5 linked regions of the Homo sapiens genome follow. The protein of the gene in region 5 purifies or fractionates together with the protein of the main gene of each other region. This does not show direct contact. Each region holds a gene or a part of one and is shown on either strand. Other genes may lie near its edges. The genes, in order: SHROOM1, GALNT1, SPRYD7, CTU1 and NYX.

The links.
Region 1: the proteins of NYX (region 5) and SHROOM1 purify together in Homo sapiens (affinity purification with mass spectrometry; 3 studies listed by BioGRID and IntAct, with this or other methods). This does not show direct contact.
Region 2: the proteins of NYX (region 5) and GALNT1 purify together in Homo sapiens (affinity purification with mass spectrometry; 2 studies listed by BioGRID and IntAct, with this or other methods). This does not show direct contact.
Region 3: the proteins of NYX (region 5) and SPRYD7 purify together in Homo sapiens (affinity purification with mass spectrometry; 2 studies listed by BioGRID and IntAct, with this or other methods). This does not show direct contact.
Region 4: the proteins of NYX (region 5) and CTU1 purify together in Homo sapiens (affinity purification with mass spectrometry, with the first as the bait; one large-scale study listed by BioGRID). This does not show direct contact.

Annotation. Positions count from the first base shown.
Region 1 is NC_000005.10:132,821,607-132,824,872, reverse strand, and holds the end of SHROOM1 (protein Shroom1), read left to right. Parts: intron 1-51; coding exon 52-258; intron 259-453; coding exon 454-1,023; intron 1,024-1,108; coding exon 1,109-1,250; intron 1,251-1,350; coding exon 1,351-1,623; intron 1,624-1,744; coding exon 1,745-2,077; 3' UTR 2,078-2,732; downstream 2,733-3,266. UniProt on the Homo sapiens protein: May be involved in the assembly of microtubule arrays during cell elongation.
Region 2 is NC_000018.10:35,693,015-35,696,776, forward strand, and holds part of GALNT1 (polypeptide N-acetylgalactosaminyltransferase 1), read left to right. Parts: intron 1-3,201; exon of another isoform or gene 3,202-3,325; intron 3,326-3,762. UniProt on the Homo sapiens protein: Catalyzes the initial reaction in O-linked oligosaccharide biosynthesis, the transfer of an N-acetyl-D-galactosamine residue to a serine or threonine residue on the protein receptor.
Region 3 is NC_000013.11:49,915,658-49,919,419, reverse strand, and holds part of SPRYD7 (SPRY domain-containing protein 7), read left to right. Parts: intron 1-1,198; exon of another isoform or gene 1,199-1,327; intron 1,328-1,955; exon of another isoform or gene 1,956-3,762.
Region 4 is NC_000019.10:51,101,792-51,105,553, forward strand, and holds part of CTU1 (cytoplasmic tRNA 2-thiolation protein 1), read right to left. Parts: intron 2,800-3,762; 5' UTR 2,779-2,799; coding exon 2,271-2,778; intron 1-2,270.
Region 5 is NC_000023.11:41,471,081-41,473,747, forward strand, and holds part of NYX (nyctalopin precursor), read left to right. Parts: intron 1-2,410; coding exon 2,411-2,667.

The sequences.
Region 1 (3,266 bases), on a different chromosome or scaffold from region 5:
CCAAGAGCTTCCTTCCTTTCACTGTGGTCACTATGGGGTCCCTGCCTCCAGGTTCTTGCCTCAGAAAGAGGCTGCGGTGATGTATCCTGCAGAGTTACCCCAGAGCAGCCCTGCTGACAGTGAACAGAGGGTCTCAGAGACCTGCATTGTGCCTGCCTGGCTCCCCTCCCTTCCTGATGAAGTGTTCCTAGAAGAGGCCCCACTGGTCAGAATGAGATCACCACCAGACCCCCATGCCTCCCAGGGGCCCCCAGCCAGGTAATTCCCTCTTGCTTCCAAGCATCGTGAGGCACCCCCTGACACACACATCTACAAAACGCTAGAGGGGTGGGAATGCTCTCCTAGCTGGAGCCTGGGATTCCAGGTGATGGGGGTAGGGACAGATGGCCCTTGGAGGCCACCATTTGTTTGTGGCTGGAGCTTTTTCTGATTCAGTGTCTTTTCTGCTTCCAGTGTCCATGCCTCTGACCAGCCGTATGGAACTGGCTTAGGCCAAAGAACTGGCCAGGTTACAGTCCCCACAGAGTACCCGCTCCATGAGTGTCCAGGAACTGCAGGGGCAGATGACTGCTGGCAGGGGGTGAATGGTTCTGTAGGTATTTCCAGGCCCACAAGCCACACCCCCACTGGGACTGCAAATGATAACATCCCAACTATTGACCCCACTGGACTGACCACCAATCCCCCCACAGCTGCAGAGAGTGACCTCCTCAAACCTGTCCCAGCTGATGCCTTGGGACTTTCAGGCAATGATACTCCAGGTCCCTCTCACAATACTGCCCTAGCCAGGGGCACTGGCCAGCCTGGTTCCAGGCCCACATGGCCTAGTCAGTGCCTCGAGGAGCTGGTTCAGGAGCTGGCCAGATTAGATCCCTCTCTATGTGACCCTCTTGCTTCCCAGCCCAGCCCAGAGCCACCCCTGGGCCTGCTGGATGGACTGATTCCTTTAGCAGAGGTCCGGGCTGCAATGCGGCCTGCCTGTGGGGAGGCTGGAGAGGAGGCTGCCAGTACTTTTGAGCCAGGGTGAGTGAGGTGTACTAGGGAATCTGGACACTGAGCCCCTGAAGTTGGGGACAGGAAACCCAGGGAGCTCTGGTTTTGTTCCCAGGTCCTATCAGTTCAGCTTCACCCAGCTCCTGCCGGCTCCTCGGGAGGAGACAAGGCTTGAAAACCCTGCCACCCACCCTGTGCTTGACCAGCCATGTGGGCAGGGGCTCCCTGCACCAAACAACAGCATCCAGGGCAAGAAAGTGAGTGGAGAAGGGCTGGTGGAGGCTGGGGGTGGGTAGGAGCCCAGAGCCTGGGCAGGGAAGTCATGAGCCTGGCCCCAGCCTTGAGCCTTCCCTGTAGGTGGAGCTGGCCGCCCGCCTCCAAAAGATGCTTCAGGACCTTCACACGGAGCAGGAGCGGCTGCAGGGGGAGGCACAAGCGTGGGCCAGGCGCCAAGCGGCTCTGGAGGCTGCAGTGCGCCAGGCCTGTGCCCCTCAGGAGCTGGAGCGGTTCAGCCGGTTCATGGCCGACCTAGAGCGCGTGCTTGGCCTTCTGCTGCTGCTGGGCAGTCGCCTGGCGCGCGTGCGCCGCGCCCTGGCCCGGGCGGCCTCAGACAGCGACCCTGATGAGCAGGTAAAAGGGGTTCAGGTTGCAAGCGAGTAGGGCGGTGAGGGGCCTGCTGTCTCCGGCTGGAACCATTCCGGGAGCGGCGGCGCCCTCACCCGGCTCACGGCGCCTCTTCCTGCGGCTCAAGGCCTCCCTGCTGCAGCGACTCCGGCTCCTGCAGCGGCAGGAGGAGGACGCCAAGGAGCTGAAGGAGCACGTAGCGCGGCGCGAGCGGGCCGTGCGGGAGGTGCTGGTGCGAGCACTACCGGTGGAGGAGCTGCGCGTCTATTGCGCCCTGCTGGCGGGCAAGGCCGCCGTCCTGGCCCAGCAGCGCAACCTGGACGAGCGCATCCGCCTCCTTCAGGACCAACTGGACGCCATCAGGGACGACCTTGGCCATCATGCCCCGTCTCCCAGCCCGGCGCGGCCCCCAGGGACCTGTCCTCCAGTTCAGCCGCCCTTCCCTCTTCTCCTTACATAGTTATAGGTGGAGAGGGTGGGGTGCACCGCCCCTATCTCTCACCCACGTAAGTGGGGTGATGCTGATTTAGTCTCTGCTTTTCCCTTGAGGGATTGGGGAGGACCCAGTCCAGGCCTTTCTAAGATACTCCTCCAGCCGGGCGCGGTGGCTCACGCCTGTAATCCCAGCACTTTGGGAGGCCGAGGCGGGCGGATCACAAGGTCAGGAGATCGAGACCATCCTGGCTAACACGGTGAAACCCCGTCTCTACTAAAAATATAAAAAATTAGCCGGGCGTGGTGGCGGGTGCCTGTATTGCCAGCTACTCGGAAGGCTGAGGCAGGAGAATGGCGTGAACCTGGGAGGTGGAGCTTGCAGTGAGCGGACATCGCGCCACTGCACTCCAGCCTGGGCGACAGAGCAAGACTCCGTCTCAAAAAAAAAAAAAAAAAAAAAAAAAAAAAAGATACTTCTCCAAAGTGTTCTCATGTGGCCTCACCCAGGTCTTGTGTATTATTTGGTAATTAATTTATGGATCTTAAAAACTGCAGTATTCCCCCATTTTGTGATGAGAGTGTGGGGCTGGCAGGGGTTGGTTGGAGGGAGGAGAGAAGACAGAGGAGCACTTAAGGTGCAAAGCAGCCTATTTTTTCTTCAATAAAAATTGTTAAGAGAAGTGTGTGTGTCATCTGCAGCACAGCTGTGGGAGGAGTGAGAGGGGTCTTGTTTACACAGTCACCAGCCCTGGCTGACTAGAGCAGAAGAGGGATTTGCTGGCAGAATATCAGTCAACCCTGCCAATGTCTAGTTAGTCTGGAGAACCTGGCTTGAAAACAGGAGGGACCAGGGGAATACTGCGCTTTCAACTCCACTGTCACCAGTATTTCCTAACTGTTCCAGTGACTGTGTCACAGCCACAAAGGCCTAGGTCTGATTGGCTGAGTCCAGATTCTGTAGCTGGTTTCTAGCCAACATCCCAGCTTCAGTAGAGAAGTAGGAGTCCTGTCTCCTTTCAAGACTCAAGCTACTGAAATGGGCTCAGATGCTGTGCTGCCTAAATGCCCTGACAAATATTCAGAATACTTGGACATCTGGGGACATTCATTCCAAGACCCAGAAAGCACTTTCTTCTTCCAGTTATGTTATCAACACTGTTTATCCTCCTCTCCTTCAGAGATACCACTGGGTCAGCCAGGCCTGAGGCGGGCAG
Region 2 (3,762 bases), on a different chromosome or scaffold from region 5:
GTTGATCTTACAGTCCATGAGTAAGACAGATTATGAAAGGCACACAATATGTCAGGTGGTGGTAAGGGCAGAAGGGATAGAGAATGACTGACAAGTGAGCGTGGGTAGTAGTACTGTTTTATGTAAGGAAGTTGAAAGAGTACGGAAGTTGAAAGAGTCCTGTCAAGGTGATTTTGAGCAGAGATCTGAAGAAAGTGAATGAGCAGGTCATACGAGTTTTTAGGGAAAGAGTATTCTGGGCACAGGGAAGAACAAGTATAAAGGTTTCTAAGATGACAATGTACTTAGCGCGTTCCAGAAACAGCAGGGAGACCAGTTGTCTGGAATAGAGTGAACAAGGTGGAGAGTAGTAGAAGATAAGGTCAAAGACAAAGTGAGGGTCAAATCATATAAAGCTTTTAGGTTATAGTGAGAACTTTGCATTTTGCATTTTATTCTGAATCAAATGGAAGCTATCGAAAGATACCAGCAAACTTCCACTAGAAAAGGATCACATTGTATGCTATGTGGAGAAAAACTATATGGAAACAGGAGTAGAGCTGGTGTATTGTTGAAGAGAGTAAAGGATTATGTCTGGTTTCTATCAAGCTTGAGACACTGACTGTAAAGTTGCCATTACTGAGATGGGAAAACCTACAGGAAGAGCAGATGCTCAAGGGAATCAACAGTAGTTTGGGACACATCAAATTTGAGATCCAAGTGAAGATATGAATAGGTCTTTACATTTAAGAATATTCACTTTGGGGGAGAGGTTGTGATAGAGATGTTAACTTAGGTTGTCAGCATATAGGATGGTTTTTAAAGCCACAAAACTGTATGAGGTCACCTGAGGAGGAGAAAATGTTAAGTATGAGAGAGAAGACCGAGGACAATGCCAGAGGGAATGCCACAGTTTAGAAATCATGGAGATGAGAAGGAATCAGCAAAAAAGATTGAGAAGGAGTAGGCAGTGAAATAGGAGAACCTAGAGAGTGGTGTCGCCAAGACTAAGGGAAAGACGTGTTTCAGGAAAGAGGAAGTGATCAGCTGTATCGAATACTGCAGAGAAATTGAGGAAGATGAGTACTTAGAATTGGTTATTGCATTTGGCTAGGGACATGTTATCAGTAGCCTATCTCACAGTGTTGAGAGAGTTCCCCATGGATGTTGTTAAAAACTCTGTTTTGAAGAGAGAATGGAAGAAGCAACATAGATGAATGTGTACAAGTCTTGCAAGGAATTTTCTTGTAAAAGAGAGAAGATAAATAGGTGGTAGCTGGAGGAGAATATGGGCTTAAAGGGGTTTTTATTTCTTTATTAAGATAAAACTGTGCTGATATGAGCAACCCAAAAGAGAAAATTTAAAGATGCAAAAGAAAGAGCCAACTTAACACCCATTAGAATGGCCACTATCAAAAAAACAGAGAATGACACATGTTGGCAAGGATACTGAAAAATTGGAACCCTTGTGCATTGTTGGTGTGAATGTAAAATGGTACAACTGCTATTTAAAAATAGTATGGAGGTTTCTCAAAAAATGCTCAAAAAAGAGAACTACGATATTATCCAGCAATTCCACCTCAGGGTATGTATCCAAAGGAAATGAACGCAGGGTCTGAAGAGTTACTTTTACTTACATGTTTATAACAGCACTATTCACAATAGCCAAGAAGTAGAAGCACTCCACGTGTCCGTTCATTCTGGCCCAGCTAGCAATGCTTAGGCATTGTCCAAAATTGGGTCAGTTCAAAGTAAAAAACTCCTCCTTCTTGGTTCTAAAGACAAGCTACAGAGTGACTGCTATAAATCGTGATACAACGTACAATGGAATATTTTTCAGTCTTAAAAAGGAAGGAAATTCTGATACATGCTACAACATGGATGAACCTTGAGGACCTTATGTTAAGCATAATACGACAGTCACCAAAAGAGAAATGCTGTATGATTCTCCTTATATAAGGCAGCTAGAATAGTCAAACTCATAGAAACAGAAAGTAGAATGGTGGTTACCAGGGCTGAGGGAAGGGCCTAAAGAAGAGTTACTTCATGGGCATAGAGTTTCACATTTGCAAGATGAAAAAGTTCTGGAGATTTGTTTCACAACAGCCTGAATATACTTAACACTACTAAACTGTACACTTGAAAACAGTTTAGATGGTAAATTTTATGTTATGTGTTTCTGCACCAGAATAAAAAGAAAGAAGGGATCTGTTGTTATGGGTGTCATGTATTTGGGTGGATAGGAGGTGAAATCTGTACACAAGTAGAGGGTGTTGGGTGGGGGTGGGAAGAAGAGAGGTCATCTCTTATCATGGGGAGGAAGGTAGAGGAATGGGAACAAGTGCAGGGCAGCTGTAGGTTTGGAGGTGGAAACTGGCAGTTTGTGGTGGAAGTGTGAGGACCTTCTCTTCTGGTGGCTTGTTTCCTCAGTTGAACACAAGATTATGGGCTGAGAGTGAAGAAGGTGTTGGTGAGGGGGAATTGGGGAAAGAGAAAAGGATGTAAAATAGAAATGTAAGATAAGGGAAAGCAAGTAGATCACTGAAGGAAGCCAGATGGTGGAGAGTTGGTGAAGCCATCTGGCCTGGTGTTTTCTTCAGTGCCAGGGCAGGCACAGACTTACGCATTTATCCTAACAGTTACTAAGGCTACTTCAGGATTGACTTGAGCTCCCTACCTCTGAACCTTGTTGTGATTTAAGGAATTTGTTTTCAAACAAGTGAGGGCTACATTGAGTTTCTTGAGCCTTTCATTCTCACTGATGCCTCATTAATGGGAATGTGTTTTCCTTTGCTGTGACCTCGTACTGGTCAAAGAAGGCCCAGGGTGAGTGGTGCGCCAGGGAAAGATTTCTAGCAGTCACTCTGCAGCTTGTCTTTAGAACCAAAAATGAGGAGTTTTTTGTTTTTGTTTTGTTTTTTTTGAGCTGACCCAATTTTGGACAATGCCTAGGCATTGTTAGCTGGGCCAGAGTTCGGGCGTGTGACAAAGAAACACTTGTCTGCTCCATGGTAGATGACTGCCAAGGCAAGCTTGCGTCTTACCTGCCTCTTGCCAGCTGGCTTCTGGGCAAGTCGCAGCGTTTACCCTCTGTGGCCTGCTTGTTATCGCCTTATTAACTTAACAGCTGGCCTTAAGCCTTGTACGCCCTTAATACCAGGCCACATCCTACAGGTTAAAAGTGTCATTTCTAGATTGGAGGTCATTCTTAAGAGTACCCACCATAGTGCAGCCCAGGGATCTTATGCTTCTGATCACAGCTTCACCCATGTGAGCCTTCCTTTGCTAGCAACAGTAATTTAGCCTTTCATAGATCTCTTCTCATGCTTCAAGGGTCCAGGGAAACCTGAAATCATAGGATTTTTCAGCAGAAAGGGAAATCAGAAAATGTAAATATGACTAGGGTAATAGATATAATTTAGGGCATCTGGCTTCAGCTAACGCTGACGTTCGTAGTTCCTGTAGGACCTGAACAAATGTGTTTCATTGTGGTATCTGATAGTTGTTAACTCAGGAGCTGAGTATTCTAAACAACAAAAAGTAAACAATCTAGACCTTTACTGGTTTAGTCAGTTTTAGGGGCTGACCAATTGCTTTTCCAGGCAGATCTAATAATCCTAACATTTACTGAGCATGTACTTTATGTCAAGCACAAATCTGAATGCTTGATGAATATTAAAGCACAACACTATAGGATTGTGCTGTTATTTCCACTTCACAGATAAGTAAACTGAGACACAAATAAATGGTTTAAAAAACACGGCTAAACTCACAACCATCTGG
Region 3 (3,762 bases), on a different chromosome or scaffold from region 5:
AGCACGCACCACCACACCCAGCTAATTTTTGTATTTTTAGTAGAGATGGGGTTTCACCATGTTGGCCAGGATGGTCTTGATCTCTTGACCTTCTGTTCTGCCCGCCTCGGCCTTCCAAAGTGCTGGGATTATAGGTGTGAGCACCTGGCCAACTTTTATATTTTTACTAGAGATGGGGTTTCACCATGTTGGCCAGGCTGATCTCGAACTCCTGAGCTCAAGTGATCTGCCCACCTCGGCCTCCCAAAGTGCTGAGATTATAGGCATGAGCCACCGTGTCCAGCCTATTTTGTATTATCAACTTTAAGTAAACAGGTATATGATTTTTCTGCCTTTGGTTTTGTAAGTCTAAAAATATTTTCTCATTTAAGTTCTTAAATTTGGGTTATAATAAGAACTAATTAGGACTGGCGTGGTGGCTCACACCTATAATCCCAACACTTTGGGAGGCCGAAGCCGGTGGATCACTTGATGTCAGGAGTTTGAGACCAGCCTGGCCAACATGGTGAAACCCCATCTCTACTAAAAATACAAAAAATTAGCCAGACGTGGTAGCGCACTCCTGTAATCCCAGTTACATGGGAGGCTGAGACAGGAAAATCACTTGAACCCAGGAGATGGAGGTTGCAGTGAGCCGAGATCATGCCATTGCACTCCAGCCTGGGCGACAGAGCAAGACTTAGTCTCCACAAAAAAAAATAAAATAAAATAAAATTAAAAAAGAAAGAAAAATAACTAATTAGGCCAGGCACGGTGGCTCATGCCTGTAATCCCAGCAGTTTGGGAGGCCAAGACAGGTGGGTCACTTGAGGTCTGGAGTTCAAGACTAGCCTGGCCAACATGGTGAAACCGTGTGTGGTGGCACACACCTGTAATCGCAACTACTCAGGAGGGTGAGGCGGAGAATCACTTGAACCCAGGAGGCAGAGGTTGCAGTGAGCCGAGATCACACCACTGTGCTCCAGCCTGGGTGACAGAGCAAGACTCCATCTCAAAAAAAAGAAAAAAAAAAAAAAGAACTAATTTAATTACATTTGTTGTAGTTTACTATAAAAGCAGCACTGGTGCAATGACTCATGCCTGTAATCCCAGCACTTTGGGAGGCTGAGGTAAGAGTTGCTCGAGTCCAGGAGTTGAAGACCAGCCTTGAGCAACATAGTGAGAACACGTCTCGACAAAAAATTTTAAAATTATCCAGGTGTGGTTGTACGTGCCTGTAGTCCCAGCTACTTGAGAGGCTGAGCTGAGAGGATCTCTTGAGCCGGGGAGGTCAAGTCTCCTGTGAGCAGTGATCATCGTGCCGCTGCACTCCAGCCTTGGCACCAGAGTAAGACCCTGTCTCAAAAGCAAAATAAAATTAAAATACTAAAATAAAAATAGCAGTATCAATGATGACAAACTGGGATGTCAGAATTATACAATAACAAATATAAATAATAATATGATAATAGCCAAAGCTTGTGATTACCTTTTAGTTTAAGGTTTTCATTAGCCTTCTTTTCTCCTAAAATTACTTTTCAGTCATTTTACCTTCTGTGTCCTTGCATGTAAATGTGTGTTTTAAAACTCAATTTAGTGTTGCATATTGGGTAAGCCTAAAAGCAATTCCTTTATTTACTTGAGTAAATGGAAATTTAGCTTGATATTTGAAATAGGTTAGCCTGAGAAATAAAATAAATATCAGTAGAGTGACAGTTATACAAGTTAACTGTAGCAAATAAGTTTAATGCTCTAAACTGTTTCTTTTATTCAGCATTATTTGTAATGTACTAAGGTTATAGATACTAAATTATATTTCATAAATTGAACTCATAAATCAGTCCAATTAAACCAAGTGTTTTAATAGCCTGATCCTATCAAAGATAAACATAAAACTTAAATCCCTTTACTCTTTTGTCTTCCATCCCTAATCCTTGATCAATCCAATCATTCATTTTGTCTCTTCTTACACTCAGCCTGTAGAAAGAAAAAGACTGCATAACACTGAAGAAGTGTGGTTACAAAGTTACGACTTCCTGGCTGGGCGCAGTAGCTCACGCCTGTAATCCCAGCACTTTGGGAGGCTGAGGCAGGCGGATCACGAGGTCAGGAGATTGAGACCATCCTGGCTAACAGGGTGAAACCCCGTCTCTACTAAAAATACAAAAAATTAGCTGGGTGTGGTGGCGGGTGCCTGTGGTCCCAGCTACTTGGGAGGCTGAGGCAAGAGAATAGCGTGAACCGGGGAGGCGGAGCTTGCAGTGAGCCGAGATCATGCCACTGCACTCCAGCCTGGGTGACAGAGCGAGACTCTGTCTCAAAAAAGAAAACAACAAAACAAAACAAAAAAAAACAAAGTTATGACTTCTAGCCTAATCTGAGCTCTCAATAATTTTCAGCAATTCTTTGTGCATGTCTATGCATTCTGTGCTTCTTGCATTCTCTATTCATCCTCTGAAAATGCCTTGCCTTCTACCTTACAAAAAAAACAGGCAATCACAAGTGAACTCCAGCTTCCCTCTCTTCAGGTCCAATCCTGCCTTCTTTCCATCTCATCCCAGAAGTGGTACTCTGCATGTTGCAAACACTCTATCTGTAGTCTGGATTCCAAACTCCCCAAATCTGGAACGTCACTTTGTCAGTTATTTCATCGATATCTCATGTCATGGGCCTCCCTCTTCAGTGCTTATAAACATTCTAAGCCCCATCCCAAACGCCCTTCTTTGGGCATGCATCCCTCACTAGTCCTGTGTTTCCCCTTCCCTGGATGGCCACATTTCTTCTAGAATAACCTATATCTGCCATCTTTATTGTTTTTCTTTCTTTTTTTTTTTTAACATTTAGGTTCGGGGGTACATGTGAAGGTTTGTTACACAGGTAAACTGGTGTCACGGTGGGGGGTTTGTTGTATAGATTACTTGACTAGCTCAAGGGTAGAGCATTTGACACCTTTATTGTTATTGTTCGTTTGTTCTGCAACCCAATTCAGCTGCCATTACACCACTAATTGAAACCACCCTTGTTAAAATCACTGGTGACTTCATGAATGTCAAATCCAGTATTTACATTTTTTTCTGCATTTATGCTGAAATATAAAGTATATAGTAATGTGCATTAAACTTATATGTGCAATTTAACAAATAGCTATCAAGTGAACACTCACATTATTACCACTTAGATCAAGAAATAGAACATTTTCTTGGCCCAGATGCAGCCCGCACCACAGCTGCATTCCTCACCCAGGGGGAGTAATCACTATTGGGTGGCAGTGCTGATTATTTACTTGCTTTGCTTTACGGTCATGTTTTGTTTTGTCATCACCAGGGTCAAGGTAATGAACATATTCACCACCCCAAAGGTTTCCTTCTGCCTCTTATATCCTACTCACCACTCCCTACCCCAGCCCCAACCAAACAACCACTGATCTGCTTTCTGTCACTACAGATTAGCCCATATTTTCTAGAGTATTATATTAACAAAATCATATGGTCTTTTCTTTTGGTCTGGCTTCTTTCACTCAGCACAATTATTTGAAGATTCATTTATGCTGTAGCATATATCAATAATTCATCAGTTTTTATTGCTGAGAAGTGTAGCATTGTGTGGATATATCACAATTTCTTTATCCTTCACCAGTTGATGGACATTAGGGTTGTTTCCAGTGTGGGACTATTACAAATAAAGCTATTGTGAACGTTTGAAAATATGTCTTTGGATATACACATTCATTTCTCTTGAGTAAATACCGGTAAAAACATTTAGAAGCTGAGTAAGGCCTGCAGT
Region 4 (3,762 bases), on a different chromosome or scaffold from region 5:
ACCTTGTCATTACAAACCCACTTAAGAGCTCCCAGTTTTGTAATAATTATTACAACAATTATTATACTACGCCTTTGAAAATGGAGTGTATAAACAAAGGGTAGAAATCACCTTGCAAGTCAGGGATTTTTCTGGAAGGCTTCATTACTTTTGGAAGTACAATTAATAAGTGATTCTATCAAATTAACTTTAAAATCCGAGGCAGCCTCTCATTCTTTTTTTTTCTCCCCCAGCTGGAATCTTGCTCTGTCACCCAGGCTGGAGTGCAGTGGCGTGATCTCGACTCACTGCAACCTCCGCCTCCCGGGTTCAAGCAATTCTCCTGCCTCAGCCTCCCGTGTAGCTGGGATTACAGCCGCCCACCACCACACTCAGCTAATTTTTGTATTCTTAGTAGAGACGGGGTTTCACCATGTTGGCCAGGCTGGCCTCGAACGTTTGACCTTGTGATTCCGCCTGCCTCAGCCTCCCAAAGTGCTGGGATTACAGGTGTGAGCCACTGTGCCCGGCCGAAGCCTTTCATTCTTTCCATACACTGTCTGCTCTTGTATGGTAAGGATTATTCTTCCCATTTTCAATCACAGAGATCTAGGGATTTCTCCAAAGTTACTCAGTAAGGAAAGGGCCACATCAGTGAATGAAGCTCAGTAAGCCTTCCCCAGAGCCAGTGGCCCTACCTAGCATGGTGGCACATGACAGCCTCAGAACTACTTTTGCCTTCATATGCTTTCAGTGTGCTGATTCTCTCCAACCATCATCTCTCACCTCCATCACCGCAGCTGGCTTCCCACTGACTGGTCTCCTCGGCTTTGTCCCTGTCCCTCCAACCCAGGTTCCTCGCCATGGCCTGGGTGAGCTTTTCAAAGTGAAACTCTCTTCATGTCACTTTTACTGGTTCCGCCACAGCCTACAGGGTAAGGCCTGACCTCTTCCACCTCTCCAGCCTCCCCTGCCCTTGCTTTCTGGGTTCCAGCCACACTGGACTTCTTGGGGCAGCCCAAATTGGCTTTTCACAGGCCAATAACCTCTCCCTAATTCTTACCCGCTTTACCTCTTCACTGTGAGCCTTCAGATTTCAAAACCGTTCCTTGACCCCACTCCCTCCACGTCATAGGGTTCTCTGTGTGTACACATAGTCCATAACATGTCCATACATGGTCAATAACATGTATAATGTTTATAATTTTGTACCTGATAACCATGCAAAGGTAGGAACTTGTGCGTAACTGTATTCTCAGCCCTAGCCTGACAATGATGATGATAATAGCATGTATAAAATGTGTAATCTATATTATATCATACGGGTTATGTAACATAACTATAATATAGATAACGTTATACTTCTACTGACTCATCTAATTGTCATAACAAGTTTATGAGCTGGGTACCATTCATAGTCCTGTTTTAGGGATGGGGTGAAACAGAAGTACAGAGTGGTTAAGAACTTTGGTATGGCCACAGTTGGGATCCGGCATATAGCAGAAACTTAGCATCTGTTTGTTGAAGGAATGGATGAAAAAGACAGAATAAAAAAGTTATCTTCCAGCACTTTGGGAGGCCGAGGTGGGTGGATCACGAGGTCAGGAGATCGAGATCATCCTGGCTAACATGGTGAAACCCCGTCTCTACTAAAAATACAAAAAATTAGCTGGGCGTGGTGGCAGGCACCTGTAGCCCCGGCTACTCGGGAGGCTGAGCCAGGAGAATGGCGTGAATCCGGGAGGCAGAGGTTGCAGTAAGCCGAGATCGCACCACTGCACTCCAGCCTGGGAGACAGAGCGAGACTCTGTCTCAAAAAAAAAAAAAAAAAAAAAGTTATCAAAGAGGAGAGGCCAACCAAGAAAAGGAATTAAGAGATGGAGATGCTTTTTAGAGAAAGAGCTGGATTCTGAAAGGTGGACCATAAGAGATCAAGCATGTTAGAAACATTTAAAAATAAGTAAAGGACCAGAGATCTCCAGAGATTTTCACCTCCCACCCCTTTGGCAATCTGTGGAGACCAAGACGGTGGCCAAGACCCAAAAACCTTTGTGATCACTGCCTGGCCCCTCTGTCTCCCCAGCGTCTTGAACCTTTAAAGGGCCCCAGCCCCAAACTGCAGCATGCGCCCTTCCGCACCTCCGTACAGGGATCCTCCCATTAAGCCACCAGGGTCTCCTCGCCGCCTTCTGGAGCATGCGCCTGAATCCCCTTTCAGGTCCCGCCTCCTCGCCTGTGCATTCGCCCCACTGCCTCGGAGAGTGCCGCTCTGCGGCCCGTACTACGCTCACCTGTCACGATGTGCGTGGCTCCCACGCGGCGCGCCCCTTCCTCCAGCGCCCGGCGCCGCAGCACTCCACAGAAGGTGCAGCAGGAGCGGCTGCGGCCGGAGCCGGCTGTGCTGCGGGCCACGGCGTCCATCGTCCAGCCCCCAAAGAGGTCTTCGTAGGCCACGACCGTGAGCGGCAGCTCCCAGCGCGCCGCCTGGCGCCGCACGGCCGCCAACGCCGCGTCCCGGTAGCCACCGATGCCCTCATCGACGGCCACGAGCTGCAGTGAGATGCCCAGGCGCGGCGCCAGCGCGCGCAGCACGTGCGCCAGCACCGTGGAGTCCTTGCCGCCCGAGGCGCCCACGGCCACCACCGCGCCGGGCGGCAGCAGGCGGCCGGCGAGCACCGTGTGCAGCACCTCGGCCTCGAAGGCGGCGCAGAAGCAGGCACCGCACAGCGCTTGGCCCGAGAGCGGACGGCGGAGGGCGGCGCGTGCAGCATGGCAGGAGGCGCACGGCGGGGCGGGCATTGCGGGAGGGGTCGGCTTCTCCTAGACAGGGAGAGAGAGGAGGTGGGTTACATATGGATTCCGGATTGCAGGGTCCCTGCCATCGGGGAGATTGTCTGGATTGCACCTCTGCCCGGAATAGACCAGGGAGACGTGTGCGCGAGTGGAGTAGCTTCTTCTAGCGCTGGGGATAGGATGGTTATAAATAGGTCCGGTGTAAGGAAGCCACTGCCTTAGGGAAGGCTTCTTGGATTGCACCCATTATGCAAGAAGAAGAGAAGTAGCTTAAGAAGCTGGCTTCATGGGTAAAGAGAGGGAGCGACAAGCAGGTTATACCCAGGATTAGGTTGTGTCCTCTCCAGAGGGATGGGGGTGTATATTAAGGCCCATTTGTCACAACCTCCAGGGAGGCCACCCTTGTTACAGTCCTGATCAGGACAAGGTAGGTATCATTGGCCTGGGCCACCAGGGCTGTTAAAAGCCCTTGGGAGGTGAGGGGTTTTTGACTCTAAGGGCAGAGGGAGGCCAGGGGACTGAAGCTCTGTGCAGCGGGAGGTGGAAAACAGGAAAGGCCAACTGATTGCACTTTGTAGGGTGGGATACGGTCTCCAGGAATGGGTTCTGATTGCATCCTATGAAAGGCAGGGTGATCACCTTCTCCAGGGAACACAGGCAGCCTGGATCACACCTCTCAGGAGACCAGCTGGGGTTGCACACATTTTGAGGGTGAGAAAATGGGTGGGCCTCCAAGATTGAACTCAACCCTGCTCTGGTATCAGAATGCCCCACAAGCTTCTGTGCTCTCACCAAGACATGGATCGGCCCATCTTTGACCTTCATCTGTTATCTTTCCTACTTCATTCTTCCCCACCCAGCCTAGACTCCAACCCTCCAGTCAAATCCTGGTCCTGCCTGCCTGGTGAACCCATAAAAACTCCCCAGGCTCAGTTCTCCTCCCCAAGCCACCATCACCTCCAGCCTGGACTACTGTAGTCACCTCCTTGC
Region 5 (2,667 bases):
AATTACGAACTTTTCCAGAGCTTATATACCTTCTTTTTTTGGAGGGGGGGGATGGAGTTTCACTCTTTTCACCCAGGCTGGAGTGCAATGGCACTATCTCAGCTCACTGCAACCTCCGCTTTCTGGGTTCAAGCAATTCTCCTGCCTCAGCCTTCTGAGCAGTTGGGATTACAGGTGCCCACCACCATGCCCGGCTAATTTTTGTATTTTTAGTAGAGACGGGGTTTCACCATGTTGGCCAGGCTAGTCTTTAACTCCTCACCTCAGGTGATCTGCCCACCTCGGCCTCTCGAAGTGTTGGGATTACAGGCGTGAGCCACCGCACCTGGCCCAGAGTTTATATACCTTCTAAGCTACATGTCTACGTGTAAGTGTGCATTCATCTAAAGACATGTGATTAACTTCTTTTAATCTATAACTAAGGTCTGAGTCCTGAAGACCTTCCTCTGGAGCCTCAGTAAATTTACTTAATCTAGATGGGTCCAGGTGCTGGGGTGATTACCCTTATTTTGTCTCCTGCTAAATCATGGAGGTTTGGGGAGTTCCTCCAGACCCCCAATAAACTTGTCTGTGGAGGTCTGGGGAGTTTAGACCCCCAGTAAAACTTGTTTAATCCTAAATGGGTCCTGTTAAGAATTATTTCATAATCTTGTCATGCTTTAAGGCCCAGGAAAGGCTTGGGCAAAACTCTTGGTGGGCTTTTGTTACCTTCCAGCCTTTGTATAAGGGCACTGGTGTATATATATATATGTATTTTTTTTTTTTTTTCCCCTGGGGTAACTGGTTCTTTAGCAAGAGGGGAGCACTGGGGAGTATCTTCAGGGTGGCTGAACTTTGCAACCTCTTTAATAAACAACTTCCCCCTGTGCAGTTTGTCCTCCTTTATCACCACACTCCGATGCCCTGGTATTCAGGCAATGGCATCAGGCCCATATTTCCGTAGAGTTCAGAGTTCTGTGAGGTAGAGCATTCCTTCCAATGGGATCTTAGAATTCTTAGAGTTGCAGAATTTTACTGACTAGACTCAGGAGGTCTCAGGAGTCCAGACTTCCTTAAAGCTTGGCTCAAAATTCCAAGGGAGCTCATAACTCCATGGAGCCCAGAGTTCCTGGCTCGGGAACATTGGGAGGCCTGGGATACAGTGGCTTAGCCTCAAGCAAAAAGGTGAACAATATCTTTATGGCTTGAAGGTATACGAAATAATGTCACTACATCGGAGCAGCGCCTCTGCTTGCACACCTATGGGAGTCTGTAGCTGTGACACATAGAAGTTGGCCACATCCATGTCGGTGGCTCCAAAGTGGGTGGCCACACGCACACCCTCGTGCAATGTGAAGCTCACCTGATGACTCACCATGGCCAGCAGGCCGCGGAGGTAACGATCCCGAAGGGCGGCTCGGGCCCGCTGCTTCTGGGATTCCAAGGATTCTTGAGCTATGGAACACTCCTGGATTTCAAGAACCTCTGACTACAGGGGGGCTCTGCGTCCATCAGGGGCAAAGCCACGGCTGAGACCATCAGGGCCTCGGGGCAGCCGGAGCACAGGCACAGGAAAGGTCACTGGAGCCTGCATTGTCTTGGCGAGGTCCGTGGCTACTGTGCGCGCCCCCACTTCCGCCGGCACCCCGCAGTAGAGGCCAGGGCAGGCCCCGAGCCGCGGAGCCTGGGTTCCGCCTGCGCCACCGCCACCAACCCACGTGTCACGGGCAAATTTATTTATTTATTTATTTATTTTTGATATGGAGTCTCACTCTGTCGCCCAGGCTAGAGTGCTGTGGCGTGATCTCAGCTCACTGGAACCTCCGCCTCCCGGGTTCAAGGGATTCTCGTGCTTCAGCCTCCCAAGTAGGTGGGATTACAGGAGCCCGTCACCACGCCCGGCTAATTTTTGTATTTTTAGTAGAGACGGAGTTTCACCATGTTGCTCAGGCTGGTGTGAACTCCTGAGCTCAGGTGATCTGCCCGCCTCGGCCTCCCAAAGTGCTGGGATTACAGGCGTGAGCCACTGCGACCGGTCAGCTTTTAATATTTAACTTAACCATTCAGTCAGTGCCGAAACAGTAGTTATGGAGGCCTGCATTAGTGAGTCCTGGCCTGCCACACTAGGAGCACACAAGTGGTGGTACAGGCAGGAGGGAGTTTAGAACGGGGTCAGCTGCAGGGATTGCAGCTGGGTTTTGCTGATTAAGGTAACCGGAAAGCAAAGGAGCGGGTGTCTTAGGTGGATAAACCCGTGTGAGGCCGCGGAGGTGGGAAGAGGCCATGTGCCTGACACAAGATAACTCGGTGGAGGGCCTGCATCCTGCTGCCCGGACAGGCAGGATTTTTCCTGGGGTGACCTTTGGCTGACGGTTGCTCCTTTTTTCTCTTTTCTCCTCCTTCCCGACTCCCCACCACCCTGTCCCCGCAGCGGTGGTCCTCGGCCTGCCCAGCGCCTGGGCCGTGGGGGCCTGCGCCCGCGCTTGTCCCGCCGCCTGCGCCTGCAGCACCGTGGAGCGCGGCTGCTCGGTGCGCTGCGACCGCGCGGGCCTCCTGCGGGTGCCGGCCGAGCTCCCGTGCGAGGCGGTCTCCATCGACCTGGACCGGAACGGCCTGCGCTTCCTGGGCGAGCGAGCCTTCGGCACGCTGCCGTCCTTGCGCCGCCTGTCGCTGCGCCACAACAACCTG